Regions from separate parts of the Homo sapiens genome. Here all the other regions are linked to region 2. Evidence: fine-mapped expression QTL. A gene starts in region 2. Each other region holds a variant in brackets. All regions are shown on one strand. Distances are between the middles of the regions.

Region 1 (5,226 bases), 33 kb before region 2:
TCCCAACTTGGACAAACTGGGCTACTCACAAAAGATGCGATTCACCTACTGAGCATCCTCCAGCTTCCCTGGTGCTGTTCGCTGCAGTTGTTCCCCATCAGTACTCAAGCACTATAAGCCTTAGATTCCTTTCCTCAGAGTTTCAGGTTTTTTCAGTTACATCTAGAGCTGAAATCTGGATAGTACCTGCAGGAACAATATTCCTGTAGCCATGGAAGAGGGCCAAGGCTCAGTCACTCCTTGGATGGCCTCCTAAATCTCCCCGTGGCAACAGGTCCAGGAGAGGCCCATGGAGCAGTCTCTTCCATGGAGTAAGAAGGAAGGGAGCATGTACGCTTGGTCCAAGATTGGCTAGTTCCTTGATAGCATCTTACTCTCACCTTCTTTGTGTCTGTGATGAAAGGAACAGTCTGTGCAATGGGTTTTACTTAAACTTCACTGTTCAACCTATGAGCAAATCTGTATGTGTGAGTATAAGTTGAGCATAGCATACTTCCAGAGGTGGTCTTATGGAGATGGCAAGAAAGGAGGAAATGATTTCTTCAGATCTCAAAGGAGTCTGAAATATCATATTTCTGTGTGTGTCTCTCTCAGCCCCTGCCCAGGCTAGAGGGAAACAGCTACTGATAATCGAAAACTGCTGTTTGTGGCAGGAACCCCTGGCTGTGCAAATAAATGGGGCTGAGGCCCCTGTGTGATATTGAAAGGGTTGTTGTGTCTGGGGTCCTTGTTTCCAAATCCCCGAGGACCTAGGGAGGAAGGGTTTGCCACCATGCAACTCTCCCAGGTGTTCCAAAGAACCTTTGAGAAGTTGTACCATGTGCTGAAATGTGAGCTGCCAGCAGACTCAGTGATCATCTCAGCAGCTGTCTCAGCAGAGCCAGAGCTCCGCTTCTCCCTGGAGGCTCTCGAGGTGGGGGAAGGAGAACACACATTAGAGGGGACATTTTTGAGCCCAGCTGCCCCTCACAGTGTTCCCTTGATAGGCCACTCTTCCCCTTCTTCCTTCTCTTGGCCTATCCTTCACCATATTTATCCTTCAGGGAACCTGGCACACAAATCAAAGTGTTGTCTTTCTGTTTGGAAGGGAAGCCTTCTTCTTTAAAAAGTAACCTGACATCACCAGCCCTGGCCGGAATTGTTGATGCCCAGATAGAGTTGGCCTCCCCCAGGCTCATCTGTCCTGAGTACCCTTCTCCTCTGCTATGTAGCATGACCCAATCTACTCCCTTTCCCAGGGTAGGACTAGGGCAGCCTCTCCAGATTCTTCTTTGTTACTCCCATTGCAACAAAACAATGTGGTGGGCTCAGAATGAAGGTCGACATTGCTTTTCTGCTTTTCAGCAACTGTCTATTGCTGTTTCTGGGGCTTCTGAGAGAAAGATTTGTGGGACCCTCAGAATTCACTCCTCCCCAGGGCAGAACCTTCAGTAAATTCTGTTGGTGGTGTTCCATCCAACATTTCTTGATCAGCTAATATGTGTATGGCACTGGGCTCTGTAACACAGTCTCAGCCACCTCACCTCCAGGAAGGAAAATCTTGCTTAGGAACGTTGGGCTCAGATAGTGAAGCAGGCTTGTAAAGAGAATTTCCTGCGTGGAAGATCACCATTCCTTGTCTTGCATGGGTTTTTGTCTCATCCACTCAACATACAAATGTTTATTAAGGATCTGGCATGTGCCAAGCACTATGCGAGGCCCTGAGGATAAAAGTGTGACCAACACTGGTCTTAGACCCCCAAAGAACTCACAGTCTAAGACAGACAAATGACATTTTTTTTTTTTTTTTTGAGACGGAGGCTCGCTCCGTCACCCAGGCTGGAGTACAGTGGCGCAATCTCGGCTCACTGCAAGCTCCGCCTCCTGGGTTCACACCATTCTCCTGCCTCAGCCTCCCGAGTAGCTGGGACTACAGGCGCCCGCCACCACGCCCGGCTAACTTTTTGTATTTTTAGTAGAGATGGGGTTTCACCGTGTTAGCCAGGATGGTCTCGATCTCCTGACCTCGTGATCCGCCCGCCTCAGCCTCCCAAAGTGCTGGGATTACAGGCGTGAGCCACTGCGCCCGGCCAACAAGTGACAAATAATTATAACAGTGTGACTAATACCATAGCAGAGGT[A/G]CATACAAAGTGCAGCTGGGAAGAGGTTGAGAAAGATTCAGAAAGGGAGGAAGGGGGGAAAGAGAGGTAACATTTTTGACAGCCTGGGCAACATAGTGAGACCCTATCTCTACAAAAATAAAAAATTAACTGGGCATGGTGGCACGAATCTGTAGCCCAGCTACTTGGGAGGCTGAGTTGAGAGGATCCCGTGAAGCCCAGGAGTTCGAGGCTGCAGTGAGCTATGATCTTATGATCACACCACTGTACTCCAGCCTAGGTGACAGATTGAGAGCCTGTCCCTAAAAATACAAACAAAAATGGTTTTGAGTTAACAGCCATGTACCAAGTACTGTGCTAAGTACTCGATCTACATCACATAATTTAATCCTTATGATAATCATGTGAGCTGAAGATTAATAATTTACCAAAGGTCATACAGCTGGTCAGTGGCTGACAGAGCCTAAATGTGAATTTAGGATTGTCTGAGGCCAAAGTCAAACCTAGAAGTGGGCATTGTAAACTGCTGGCATCTTGCAGCAGACAATGAGAAGGGCAGTCCAACAGAAGGATCAGCATGTGCAACAGCCTGGAGGAATGAAAGAGAAGTTCACTTCAGAGAACTAGTTCACCAAGGCCCAACATGCCAGAGGGAAAATGGAGAATGATGAGGCCTTAGAAGTTAGAGCCAGCTCGCAAAGAGCCTCGAAACACTATGCTGAAGAAACCTGGACTCAATCCTGTGGACAGTGAAAAGTTTCTGAGGGTTTTATACAAATGGCAACACGGTAATAGCTAACATTTATAAAGCACTTACCATTGGCTAGGCCTCATAATAAGAGCCTGCATGAATTATCTCACTCAATCCTGACAAAGACCCAATGAAATAGTATTATTTTATTCCCACTTTTCAGATGAGGTAATTATCATTTGGAGGGGTTCAGTAATGTGCTCAAGATCATAGACTGGCCTGGGACAGAAGCTTGGCTCTATGTGACTCCAGAGCCCATGCTTTTAACTAGGACCAAGAGAATTAACCCCACGTCCCTGAAGCACCTATATCAGATTACAATGAGTCACTTTCTCTGCCTCTAGAATGGCACTAGTTGCACAGTGAGCTATGATATGATTGCACCACTGCATTCCAGCCTAGGTGACAGTAAGAACCTGTCCCTAAAAAAGAAAAATTAAAAATTTTTTTGAGTTAACAGCCATATTGAGGTACTGTGCCAAGTACTCTATCTACATCAGATAGTTTAATCCTTATGATAATCCTGTGAGTTAAAGGTTTGCTCACAAGAGGAAGATTGACATTGCTTTTCTGCTTTTCAGCAACTGTGTATTGCTGTATCTGGGGCTCCAGAGCATGGGGCTCTAGAGTCACATAGAGCCAAGCTTCTGTCCCTGGCCAGTCTGTGACCTTGAGCATATTAGTGAACCCCTCCAAATGATAGTTACCTCATCTGAAAAGTGGGAATAAAATAATACTATTTCATTCTTGGGAGAAATGAGAAAATGGCCAGACCCTGAAATCCCCTTCTGTGTTGTGTGGTTCAGACAAGGGCTGCACTACCCTATGTTGTCTCGCGATCTGCACTCTAGGTGCCTGTGGGAGCAGGAACTGGGGCACGGGTTCACCAGCAAGAGTAGTTAGAAACAATTCTGCTCTCTGATAAGAAAATAACAGGAGGCAGACTGAGGTCTAGCCCAGGGCCTGGCACATGGTAGGGGCTCAATAAATAGTTTGTGGAAGGGAAGGAAGGACCATGCGGTTGAAGAAGAGATTAAGAAGTGTTTCAGAGGTGAAACGACTAGCCTTGGGGACAGAGGAGATGAGATAAGGTGTATGGTAGAAAATTCAGCATTCCCTCCCGACGTTCTGTCTCATTCTCTGAAATTTCTTCTCCATCACGCACTTCAGGCTGCGATAACGAGGTGGAGTGTAGAATCCGACGAACGTCCTCTACCCCGGGGCGGGTGGAGGTTACCTGGCTGCGGCGGGGAGGTGGGCAGGCGGCAGGGAAGGCGGGGCAGCAGGGCGGGGCCCGGGGCGGGAGGTGTGGCCGGCGGGCGCGGGCCTGTGATTGGGACTCCGCGAGAGGGCCTAGGATTGGAGGGCCCAGGCAGAGCCCGCGAGGAGGTGACGCGGCTGCGGAGGTGACGCGGGAGGTCGCGCGCCCCTTCCGGCGCGGGGAGGGCGCTGAAGATCGGGGCCGCTCGGCCGCAGGCCGCCTCCAGCGCCGCGGGATGTAGCGCGGGGGACCGCGGCCCCCAGCAGAGCCCGCCTGCCCGGCTGTAAGTCTCCCAGGGGCTGCGCGGTGGGCAGGGACTCGGCGGGAGCGCGGGGACCCCGGGGGCCCCGACCCAGGCCTGCGGAGGAGACAGCTGTTGGGGGAACCCGCTCCGACTTGCCAGGGGGCTCGGGCCCCAGCCAAGGAGCCGCCTGGCCTCCAGGCATCCAGCCGGTCAGGTTGTAAACATTTCCGGCCCCTCCCACTGCGCGCCGCCTCCGAGGCGGCCTAGGTGCGGTGGGCGCTCGTCCCCGGCTGTCCCCCGACTCCCGGCAGTCCTGTGAGTGCTGCGCCTTTAGCCCCACGGGGTGGAGATGCATGGGTTCCCCAGATCGGGACCAGAGAGCCAGAGTTAAGCCTGGCCCCGAGGCCGCCGCGCGTGGGGAGGGAGGGCTGCGGGCCTAGGTCGCGAACCGCCTCTCAGCGGGGAACAGCCGCATTGGGTTGCCAGGAAGCCCTAAGGTTCCTCCACCAACAATCTTTGGCAGGTCAAGTCCTGACAGTGCCCTCACTTTGATGGGGTGGGAAGGGAGGTTGGTGATCGCTCTGCAGGGTTAAGGTAATCCTGAAGGCTGAAATGCGGGGCAGAATCGAAGGTACTTTGGGGGAAAATGAAATTTCATTACCTTAGGTATCTAGGATTGATGTATTCTATCTTCTGTTTGAGAATTTTGGTCTTCAAGCCTTCGATTTTTAAGAAAATAGATAAGTGTTTTTTTTCCCTCAGTTTCTGGTGCTCTTTGGGAGAATGGGAAACTGACAAGGCCAATTTCAGTTTACACCGTTTCAGATGTCAAAGGAGCGCTAGGAGGCCATGGTACTTTACTAGATTAACC
Region 2 (5,226 bases):
AAAATAAATTACAAAGAGCAAAAATCTCCTTCCCACCCTGTCTCACAACCAAACAGTTCCTTTCCCCAAAGAAACCAAGGTTACCACTTTGTCTTTTCAAATACATGTTACACATACACAAGCAAATATGAATATATCTTCCACCTTTTTACACCAATAATAGAGTATATAAATTGTTCACAGCTTCATGGTATTGGATTTTATGGATGTACTATACCTTATTGAATCAGTCCCCTATTAATGGACATTTAATGTTGTTGTTGATCTAATCTACAAACAATGCTGCAGTTAACAATCTTGTACATACATCGTTTTACATGTGCACGAGTATATGTGAAGGAAAATTTTATTAAAATCGACGAATATTTCCAAAATGCCCCCAATAATATACCAATCTTGCATTCTTCTCTACAATGTGTGAGTCAGGGACAGTTTTAGATCAGGAAGGTATGACATGGAAGATGGGGACACGTTGTAAATTTAGAATGCTACCCACTTGGCTATGGTTTTAGTACCCTTAAGAATCAAAGGGCTAGGCGCTGTGGCTGACGCCTGTAATCCCAGCACTTTAGGAGGCCAAGGCGGGCGGATCACGAGGTCAGGAATTCGAGACCAGCCCGGCCAAGATGGCGAAACACCGTCTCTATTAAAAACACAAAAATTAGTCGGGCGTGGTGGTGTGCACCTGTACTCCCAGCTACTCGGAGAGGCTGAGGCAGGAGAATTGCTTGAACCCGGGAGGCGGAGGTTGCAGTGAGCTGAGATCGCGCCAGTGCACTCGAGCCTCGGCGACAGAGCAAGAGTCCGTCTCAAAAAAAAAAAAAAAAAAAAAAAAGAATCAAAGGGCTCACAGAGCATAATAGTATTACCAAACACAATTTGTCTAGACATTCAGATAAGCTGAACTAATTAAGCTTTTTGCCTTTTCAGTCACTAAGTGCACCAAAATAAATTAGAATTTCCTGAATCAATTAGAATTTCCTTAGAATCAATTCAGTGGTGATGACAGGGCCCATTATGATGCAGAGTATATACTGAGGTCTGTGGATCCTAAGGCTCAGAGGATTCTCGCCGCAGCGTTGTTCGGCCCGAAAAGGCCATTGTGGACAATGGACGTGAATAAATTTGAGGCCTCTGTGGGTTTTCTCGATGTCAAAAAGTTCCTCAGTACCTGGAAGGTAAAACATACTTGCTGCAATCAGATGCTTGGCATATTAAGCGTTGGAATTCTCTCTGCCTGCCCTGCCTAGTGAGCGGTAGGGAGGAACTCAGGCTCAGCCAATCGCCGAGCTGTAGATACATTCCCAGGCTCCCTGCCGGACCCCACAACATCCAGCCTTTTTTTTGTTTTTTCTTTTTTTTCTTTTTTCTTTTTTTTTTTTTTGAGACGGAGTCTTGCTCTGTCGCCCAGGCTGGAGTACAGTGGCGCGATCTCAGCTCACTGCAACCTCCGCCTCCCGGGTTCACGCCATTCTCCTGCCTCAGCTTCCCGAGTAGCTGGGACTACTGGCGCCCGCCACTACGCCCAGCCAATTTTTTTGTATTTTTAGTGGAGACGGGGTTTCACCGTGTTAGCCAGAATCGATCTCCTGACCTCGTGATCCACCCGTCTCGGCCTCCCAAAGTGCTGGGATTACAGGCGTGAGCCACCTCGCCTGGCCTTTTTTTTTTTTTTTTAAGAGACAGAGTCTCAGTCGGTCGCCCAGCCCGGAGTGCAATGGCGCGATCTCGGCTCAGCAACCTCCGCCTCCCAGGTTCTAGCGATTCTCCTGCATTAGCCTCCTGAGTAGTTGGGATTACAGGCGCGTGCCACAACGCCCGGCTAATTTTTTTGTATTTTCAGTAGAGATAGGGTTTCACCATGTTGGCCAGGCTGGTCTCGAACTCCTGACCTCAAGTAATACACCCGCCTCGGCCTCCCAAAGTGCCGGGATTACAGGCGTGAGCCACCACGCCTGGACATTTTTTTTTTTTTTTTTTTTTTACAGGGTCTCATTCTGTGGCCCAGGCTGGAGTGCAGTGGCGATCCTGGCTCACTGCAACCTCTGCTGCCTGGCTCAAGTGATCCTCCTGTCAGCCTCTCGAGTAGCTGGGACTACAGGCGCGGTGCGGGCTAATTTTTTTTTTTTTTTTTTTTTTGTAGAAACGGGGTTTTGCCGTGATCCCCAGGCGGGTCTGGAACTCCGGAGCTCAGGTAATTCGCTCGCCTCGGCCTGCCAAAGTGCCGGGATTATAGGCGTGAGCCACCATTCCCTGCCCACCCGACCTTTTTGTAATTCGGCTTCCTAGCAGCGTACAGAAGCCCCGCGCTAGGGTACAGACAGGTCACGTGACACCACCTCCTCACGTGACGCAGACTCTGGAGCGGGGGGAGGGCGGTGCTCCAGCTGCATTGCGTCATCACGTCGCGCGGCCGCAGGGGCCAGACCCGGACGGCTCCAGAGCCTCCAGAGCCTCCGGGTCTGGGCGGCGCTTCGGCTCCTCCCGAGCCGCCTGCTAGCCCCGCGCCGCACTCCATCCCCACAGGCTGGGGACGGGCCCGGTGCGGCTGTGTGGGTTCGGGAGCGGAGGTGAGTTGCGCGGAAGTGATGGCAGTCAGCCCTTCCCTTCCTGTCCGTCAACTCCGGGTTATGGCCCTACCCCCCATCCTTGGTCTCCCTGCAAGGCGGAATGGGAGACATGCCCAACAGAGGAGGAAGGCTGGCAGTGGGGTGGGGCATCTGGCCTCGGTCACCCTCTCAACTCTCCCCCTGAACTGCCCCTCTCCGATACCTCCACCTGGCGGTGGCGGCCATATGCCTGGTGGTATTAGGAGGAAGGACTTCGTTTCCTTCTCTAGAATTTAGTCTTTCCCGAGTTTACTACCCATTCCCTGCCCCGAATCTCCCGAAGTGGAATCCCTCCATTCAGATGTTAACGAAAGTTCTAGAAAATAGGTCACTTCAGAAGGGTGAGGATGAAGGATATGCTGAGACTTGGAGTGTTGAGGCAGGAATCCCCTAGAAGGAAGACCACTCTGCACCGGGGTACTGTCATTTTGACACGGAAACGATAAAAGACCCCCCGGGCTGTCTTCATAGTAAATGGACATTTGTTCTAGACCTTTTTACACCCCTAGAGTTGCAACTAAGTTGACTTAAGTCTTTTTGAAAAACATATGCTTTGATGAATCACCCGCTTTTCTGTAAAATGGGTCTTGCAGAGTTGTTGGAGGAATTATCTATAGTGCTTATAGAGTAAAATGCCAACTACAAACAGAAGTAGATGAGAATTTAGGATCTCATTTTTCCTGTTGAAAGATTAATTGTGACTTGTGGACTTTTGGAGACCACAGTTTGATTTCCTTCCCCCCGGATCATTTCAGAAAGTTTTGGATTCCAATATCGATTCTTTAACAGTAATGGACATTCACAGATGTAGAGTAGGAATACCCTCTTGTTGAAGAGCTTCAATATCTTAAGCAAGTGTAAGTCCATCGATAACTTGCGTGGTTTCCATTATTCAGTGTAGGTAATGGGTCCTCAATTGAAGTTTCTTTTTTTTTTTTTTTTTTTGAGACAGAGTCTCGCTCTGTTGCCCAGGCTGGAGTGCAGTGGTGTGATCTCGGCTCACTGCAACCTCCACCTCCTGGGTTCAAGTGATTCTCGGGCCTCAGCCTTCTTGGTAGCTAGGATTATAGGCGCGCATCACCACGCCTGGCTATTTTTTGTATTTTTAGTAGAGACTAGGTTTCACCATGTTGGCCAGGCTGCTCTCAAACTCCTGACCTCAACTGATCACCCACCTCAGCCTCCTAAAGTGCTGGGATTACAGGAGTGAGCTGTTGGGCCCGGCCTGAAGTTTCATTTTAAGAAGAAATCCAGATATGTTTGGAAGTCATCAGACATATCATTTGGATACTTCTTTAGAAAAAAGTTTATTTTTACTGAGTGGCCTTTCTTGCTCTAAGTTGAAGTTGAATACACACTTTTTCTTACATTAAATTCTAAACATTTATTGTGCAACTTCTAGGATAGAAAGCATACATATAAAGCAGGATCCTCTTTTTATGTATGCTCTAAATACTTATCTACTTAAGGACATTAAATAGTAATAATATAACACCTTTAAGAAATTTTATATTTTCGGTTTATCATTTGAGACAAGAACCTTGTCAAGATTTACAAGACATATATTGTTTATCTCTACTTACATTTCAGCATTGATCATATTAAATGTCAAGTGGTAGGGACACTCCGTGATAGAGGAATTCAGAGGAAGAAGAGAGAGCTTTTACATGGACTAGATAGTGGCTAGTGGTTGGTGGTGATGCCAGGCATAGGAGTGCCCTCAACTTGTGTATGTTTGGGTCTGAGGAAGCCTCTTAGGTTCTTAATTTGTAAAGCTAATTAAATATGTTCAGTTGCCCTAGTTCTTTGAATATGCTCATTGTTTTTTTTTCCCTCTTGTAGTTGCAGAATCCAAGGACCCATTTTGTTCTTTCTCCGCACTGCTTTATGGGAGGCATTATGGCCCCCAAAGACATAATGACAAATACTCATGCTAAATCCATCCTCAATTCAATGAACTCCCTCAGGAAGAGCAATACCCTCTGTGATGTGACATTGAGAGTAGAGCAGAAAGACTTCCCTGCCCATCGGATTGTGCTGGCTGCCTGTAGTGATTACTTCTGTGCCATGTTCACTAGTGAGGTAAGTGGTAAATTAGCCCCACACAAATGAAACCCGTGGAACTCTAGTTGTCTAATTTCACTGAATAAAATAGTGGAAGTTTGATATAATTTTGAATTTTTACAGTGTGATGTTTTGGCAGATTCTGGATAAGATCTACCACTTAGATGACTATGCCTTAGTTTCCTCATCTTTAAGTTAGGGATAATAGTAATATGTAACACATGGTTATTAAGGTTGTTGTGAAGATTATTTTATGAAATAACATAGGAAGTGCTTAGAATAGTGTAATATGTAGTAAAACACACATGTCAGCTATTGGATTTTACTATTTCTTAAATTTGTCTTCCAATTTTTCTCCTTTTTTTGTTTTTAATTTTATTTATTTATTTGTAGAGACAGGGTCTCACTATGTTGCCCACGCTGGTCTTGAACTCCTGGGCTCAAGCAATCCTCCTGCCTTGGCCTCCCAGAGTGGCCACACCTGGCATTACAGGTGTGAGCCACGGCATCCAGCCTTTTTTCCTTCTAAAGTTTAAAAATTTTTAAGTGAATA
Region 3 (5,226 bases), 20 kb before region 2:
AGTTCTCTCCCTTTCACAGGCAAGTGCTCTCCTGGGTGTGTTTTTTTTTTTTTTTTTTGGAGACAGAGTCTCGCTGTCGCCCTGGCTGGAGTGCAGTGGCACGTTCTCGGCTCACTGCAGGCTCCGCCCTCCAGGGTTCATGCCATTCTCCTGCCTCAGCCTCCCGAGTAGCTGGGACTACAGGTGCCCGCCACCTCGCCCGGCTAATTTTTTGTATTTTTAGTAGAGACAGGGTTTCACCGTGTTAGCCAGGATGGTCTCGATCTCCTGACCTCGTGATCCGCCCGCCTCGGCCTCCCAAAGTGCTGGGATTACAGGCGTGAGCCACCGCGCCCGGCCCTCTGGGTGCGCTTTTTTAGGCCCTGGAGTCAGTACCGCTGTTTTCCATGGAACCAGTTCTGAGGCCCTGGTACTCCTGGGAGCTGCTGTAGATACAAAGTTTCAATCATGACAGCATCCCTAGAGTCAGTGAACAGGGAACTCTGAACAGAATTATTGTTATGGAACTCTCTGAGACTCTGTGTCTTTTTCGTTGTTTTGAAAACGTAGGCTGGGCATGGTGGCTCAGCCTGTAATCCCAGCACTTTGGGAGGCCGAGGCAGGAGGATCACGTGAGGTCAGGAGATTGAGAACAGCCTGGCCAACATGGTGAAACCCCATCTCTACTAAAAATACAAAAATTAGTCAGGCATGGTGGTGGGCGCCTGTAATCCCAGCTACTTGGAGGCCGAGGCATGAGAATTGCTTGAACCCGGGAGGCGGAGGTTGCAGTGAACAGAGATCGCACCACTGTACTCCAGCCTGGGTGACAGAGGGATATTCCATTTCAAAAAAAAAAAAAGAAAGAAAGAAAATGTAATGGCTTAGAAAAGAGAACTCTTTGGGAAACTGAGGAAAGTTAAGAACCACTATCCTAAAGAAAAGGATGTCATTCAGTACCTAGAGCTGGTGTATTCCCCCAATGCTAGTCTCTGTGACAGTCCTTCTTTTACGCACTGCATAGAATGTTCACTCCAGCATTTACGAAGTATTAATAAATTTCTAACTAGTGTTGTAAACTCAGTGTGTATGCTTTTGGAGAAGAGACCACAAGACCCTCTGTAGGAAAGAGGCTGGGCAGAAGGCATTAGGTTTGGGTTTTTCTGGGTCTCTCTGCTCTGGAATAGTACAATTTATGAGATGACTCCCTGGATTGTTGTGGGTTTTTTCCCCCATAGGCTGAAGAAGAGCAAACATGCCCAGTGCCCCAGGAAGAAGAGGAGGAGGTGCGGGTACTGACACTTCCCCTGCAAGCCCACCACGCCATGGAGAAGATGGAAGAGTTTGTGTACAAGGTATGGCCTATGAGCTTCTGTCCTGGAAGGGGAAGGGCAGCAGGCCTGTCTGGGATGTCCCCAGCCAGCAAGCTTGCACTGGGTCGAAGAGCTTTTATTCCTGGGAAGGAGTGGATTTGTTTTTTGGTTAAGATGAGGTAAATCAATGTGAAGACTGGCTAAATTTTTACTGCCTACTCTGTGAGGCATTGTTCAAAATATATTCTTAAAACGGATTCTTTTCTATGCAAGGGGCGCCTTTGGAAGTCATCAAAATATTTCAATATGACAGTAATATGAATGCCTTTGTTAACACATTAAATATACATGAATGATGAGCACTAATGTATTTTATTAAAATTTGTAATTTCTAAGTAATGATGAATAGAAACAGTATTTTGAGATACCTGCAGAACTAATGTGTGAGAGTATCTGATTTCTATTGGTGACAAAGCCACAAGTTCTACTAATACTGTGGTTTGTTGCTTATGCTTATAATTGAGGAAAATGCTCAATTTACTTAGAGGTAAATGGAAATACAATTTTTTCCATCTATTCCCTGGATCCTGTCCATAGTGCATGGATCCTAGATTAAGAACCCCTACTCTAAAAAGATGTGGTAAGAACTTAGAATCTAATTGGGGGAGGGATGAGACATGAGATAGAATCTCCTGGAGAGGGGCAAAGGAGGGATCTGTACGTTTTTTAAAACAAC[G/A]TTTATAATTTTTTTGTTTTTATTCAGTATATCAATTTTGAAATTTCAAGTAGCCTAAAGGAGGTTGTACCATATATATATATATATTTTTTTGAGACAGAGTTTTGCTCTTGTCTCCCAGCTGCAGTGGCACGATCTCAGCTCACTGCAACCTCTGCCTGCCAGGTTCAAGCACTTCTCCTGCCTCAGCCTCCCGAGTAGCTGGGATTACAGGCATGTGCCACCACGCCTGGCTTATTTTTGTATTTTTAGTAGAGACGGGGTTTCTCCATGTTGGTCAGGCTAGTCTCGAACTCCCAACCTCAGGTGATCCGCCCGCCTCAGCCTCCCAAAGTGCTGGGATTACAGGCGTGAACCACTGCGCCCAGCCTGGTTGGACCATATTTTCTTAAAAGGTTGAGAAACACTTACCTAAAACTTCTCCAGATAAACTAACATGAAACAAAGACAAAGAGATTTTTTGTTTGTTTGTTTTTGTTTTTTTGTTTTTTTTGAATACAGAGTCTTGCTCGGTCGCCCAGGCTGGAGTGCAGTGGTGCAATCTCGGCTCACTGCAACCCCCGCCCGCCAGGTTCAAACCATTCTCCTGCCTCAGCCTCCTGAGTAGCTGGGATTACAGGTGCCCGCCACCATGCCCGGCCAATTTTTTGTGTTTTTAGTAGAGACAGGGTTTCACCATGTTAGTCAGGCAGGTCTTGAACTCCTGACCTCAGGTGATCCACCTGCCTCAGCCTCCCAAAGTGCTAAGATTACAGGCATGAGCCGCTACACTCAGCCAGGATTTTTTTTTTTTTTTTAATGGTCAAAATATGAGTCAGGACTCTGCTAGCCCCATTCATGCTATGTCTTGGATATCCCCCAGTCCAGGCTGGTTCTCCACTATTACCTAGGACCATTCAGAGCCTGACTGACATCTTCTTAGACTAGTTCTCCATCACTGCTTGTCCTTGGGGAAGGTACTATCTAGTGCCCTACCCAGAGAAAGTGTATATGTTCTAGGTCTGGGAGGGACGTTGGAGGGTCATCCCATATGATGTGCTCCCTGACTGGCTAAAGGACAACGACTATCTGCTACATGGTCATAGACCTCCCATGCCCTCCTTTCGGGCTTGCTTCAAGAGCATCTTCCGCATTCATACAGAAACTGGCAACATCTGGACCCATCTGCTTGGTGAGTGATTTGGATGGGGAAAGGTGGAATTTGTTGTCTCCCTAACTGCGAAGGGATTATAGAGCCCAACAAAGTTGTTCAGATCGATTGGCAGCTGGGATTCTACCTTTAAACTACTAATGACTTTAAGCTAATAACCTTGGTTGACCCTTGATCACTGATCTTTAAGACTGAGAGTAAAAGGCCTAGAAACCAAAGAAATTGGGACTAGATATTTTTTTGTGATCCCTGGCAGAACTGTTCTAGGTGGAGACAATTCCTTGTACTTCGTAATTTCCAACTGTAAAAGTAAAATGCCAACATTTCAAAAAATGGTCTTTTTTGTCTGGGTTTCTGTGACCAGTGCCACTTTCTTTGAAACATTGGACTGCAATTACACAGCTAAACCTCATAGCTTTCTGATTTTTTTTTTATTTCAATAGCTCTTGGGTTACAAAGGGGTGGGGGGGGGTTTGGTTACATGGATGAATTATATACTGGTGAATTCTGAGATTTTAATGCACCCATCACCTTAGTAGTGTACATTGTACTCAATATGTAGTTTTTCTGTCTCACACCCCTATCTCCCCCTCCCGCTTCTAAGTCTCCATAGTCCATTATATCATTCTATATGCCTTTGCGTACTCATAGCTTAGCTCCCACTTATAAGTGAGAACATATACAGTATTTGATTTTTCATTCCTAAGTTACTTCACTTAGAATAGTGGCCTTCAGCTTCATCCAGGTTGCTGCAAAAGACATTATTGCATTCCTTTTTATGGCTGAGTAGTATTCCATGGTGTACATACACCACATTTCCTTTATTCACTCATTGGTCAATGGACACTTAGGTTGGTTCCATATCTTTAGAGTTGTGAATTGTGCTACAATAAACATACATGTGCATGTGTCTTTTTCATATGACTGCTTTTCCTTTGGGTAGACACCTGGTAGTGGGATTGGTGGATCAAATAGTAGCTCTACTTTTAGTTCTTTAAGGAATCTCTATACCCTTTTCCATAGAGGTTATACTAGTTTATAATTTACATTCCCACAAGGAGTGTATAAGCATTCCCCTTTTACCATATCCATGCCAACATCTGTTGTTTTTTGACTTTTTAATAATGGCCTTTCTTGCAGAAGTAAGGTGGTATTTCATTGTGCTTTTAATTTGTATTTCCCTGATGATTAGTGATGTTGCCTGTAGCTCTCTGATTCAAAAACATCAACCATCAAAGTGTACACATTCCCTTTTTTCTTACAGGTTTTTTTTATTTTACCCTCCTGCAGGTTTCGTGCTGTTTCTCTTTTTGGGAATCTTGACCATGCTCAGACCAAATATGTACTTCATGGCCCCTCTACAGGAGAAGGTGGTTTTTGGGATGTTCTTTTTGGGTGCAGTGCTCTGCCTCAGCTTCTCCTGGCTCTTTCACACCGTCTATTGTCATTCAGAGAAAGTCTCTCGGACTTTTTCCAAGTGAGTTAAAAGAACACCATAGGAAAATACTGTGCACTGTTGTCACATCTTGAGATCCCAGTGCTTACTGGGTGATAGGAGCTCATATCACTCCTAAAGGTTTCTTGATATGCCAGAGGAAAGGCTCTCTGTTCTGTGGCGATAGTGGGGTGATGAAGCTTTTCTCTTAAACACTTCATGAACAGACTTACTGCATCCTCTTCAACAGATGGAGAGACCAATTGTGGAATATATTTTCTACCTGAAAAGCACTATCTTTTGTGAGGCTTAGAGTGCCAGTGCACTGGCTGCTTTCCAAGACCTTGTACAAGCGTAACTTACTATTAGCCCAAGCCAAAGTAGGGTGTGGTAAATAGTCTATGCTTCATTCTGCTGGTGCTCCTACCCAGCAGTCAAGTAAAGCTTATCTTTGCTGCCCATGCATTGCTGGAAGCTCCAGATGTCCATCATCGTGTGCTTTCTCTCTTGCCCAGCCGTGAGCCTGAGGTTCTATTTGTTTGCTTGTTTTTGTTGTTATTGTTGGTTTTGGTGGCGACAGTGGTGTATTATTTTGTTTTTTCTAACAACACCA

The links. PIP is the estimated chance that this variant, and not a neighbour inherited with it, causes the effect. A credible set is the group of variants that fine-mapping cannot tell apart.
Region 1: its variant is the best candidate, but not a certain one, in a credible set for the expression of KLHL12 in whole blood (TOPMed, PIP 0.74).
Region 3: its variant is the best candidate, but not a certain one, in a credible set for the expression of KLHL12 in whole blood (TOPMed, PIP 0.64).

The regions. Positions count from the first base shown.
Region 1 is chr1:202,957,353-202,962,578 of GRCh38, reverse strand. ADIPOR1 (adiponectin receptor 1) reads left to right here and starts at 4,267. Exons shown (of 8, transcript NM_015999.6): 1 at 4,267-4,394. CYB5R1 (cytochrome b5 reductase 1) reads left to right here. Exons shown (of 9, transcript NM_016243.3): 9 at 1-706. The coding sequence ends at 52. RefSeq lists silencers at 3,689-3,738, 4,039-4,598. The variant A/G (reference allele first, on the strand shown) is at 2,121.
Region 2 is chr1:202,924,433-202,929,658 of GRCh38, reverse strand. It overlaps KLHL12 (kelch like family member 12), which reads left to right and starts at 2,425. Exons shown (of 12, transcript NM_021633.4): 1 at 2,425-2,570; 2 at 4,452-4,691. The coding sequence starts at 4,497. RefSeq lists enhancers at 155-654, 655-1,156, 2,233-2,282.
Region 3 is chr1:202,944,412-202,949,637 of GRCh38, reverse strand. It overlaps ADIPOR1 (adiponectin receptor 1), which reads left to right. Exons shown (of 8, transcript NM_015999.6): 3 at 1,218-1,334; 4 at 3,028-3,199; 5 at 4,469-4,655. Among named protein-coding and RNA genes, the nearest start is that of ADIPOR1, 11 kb to the left of the region's middle. RefSeq lists an enhancer at 4,883-5,177. The variant G/A (reference allele first, on the strand shown) is at 2,029.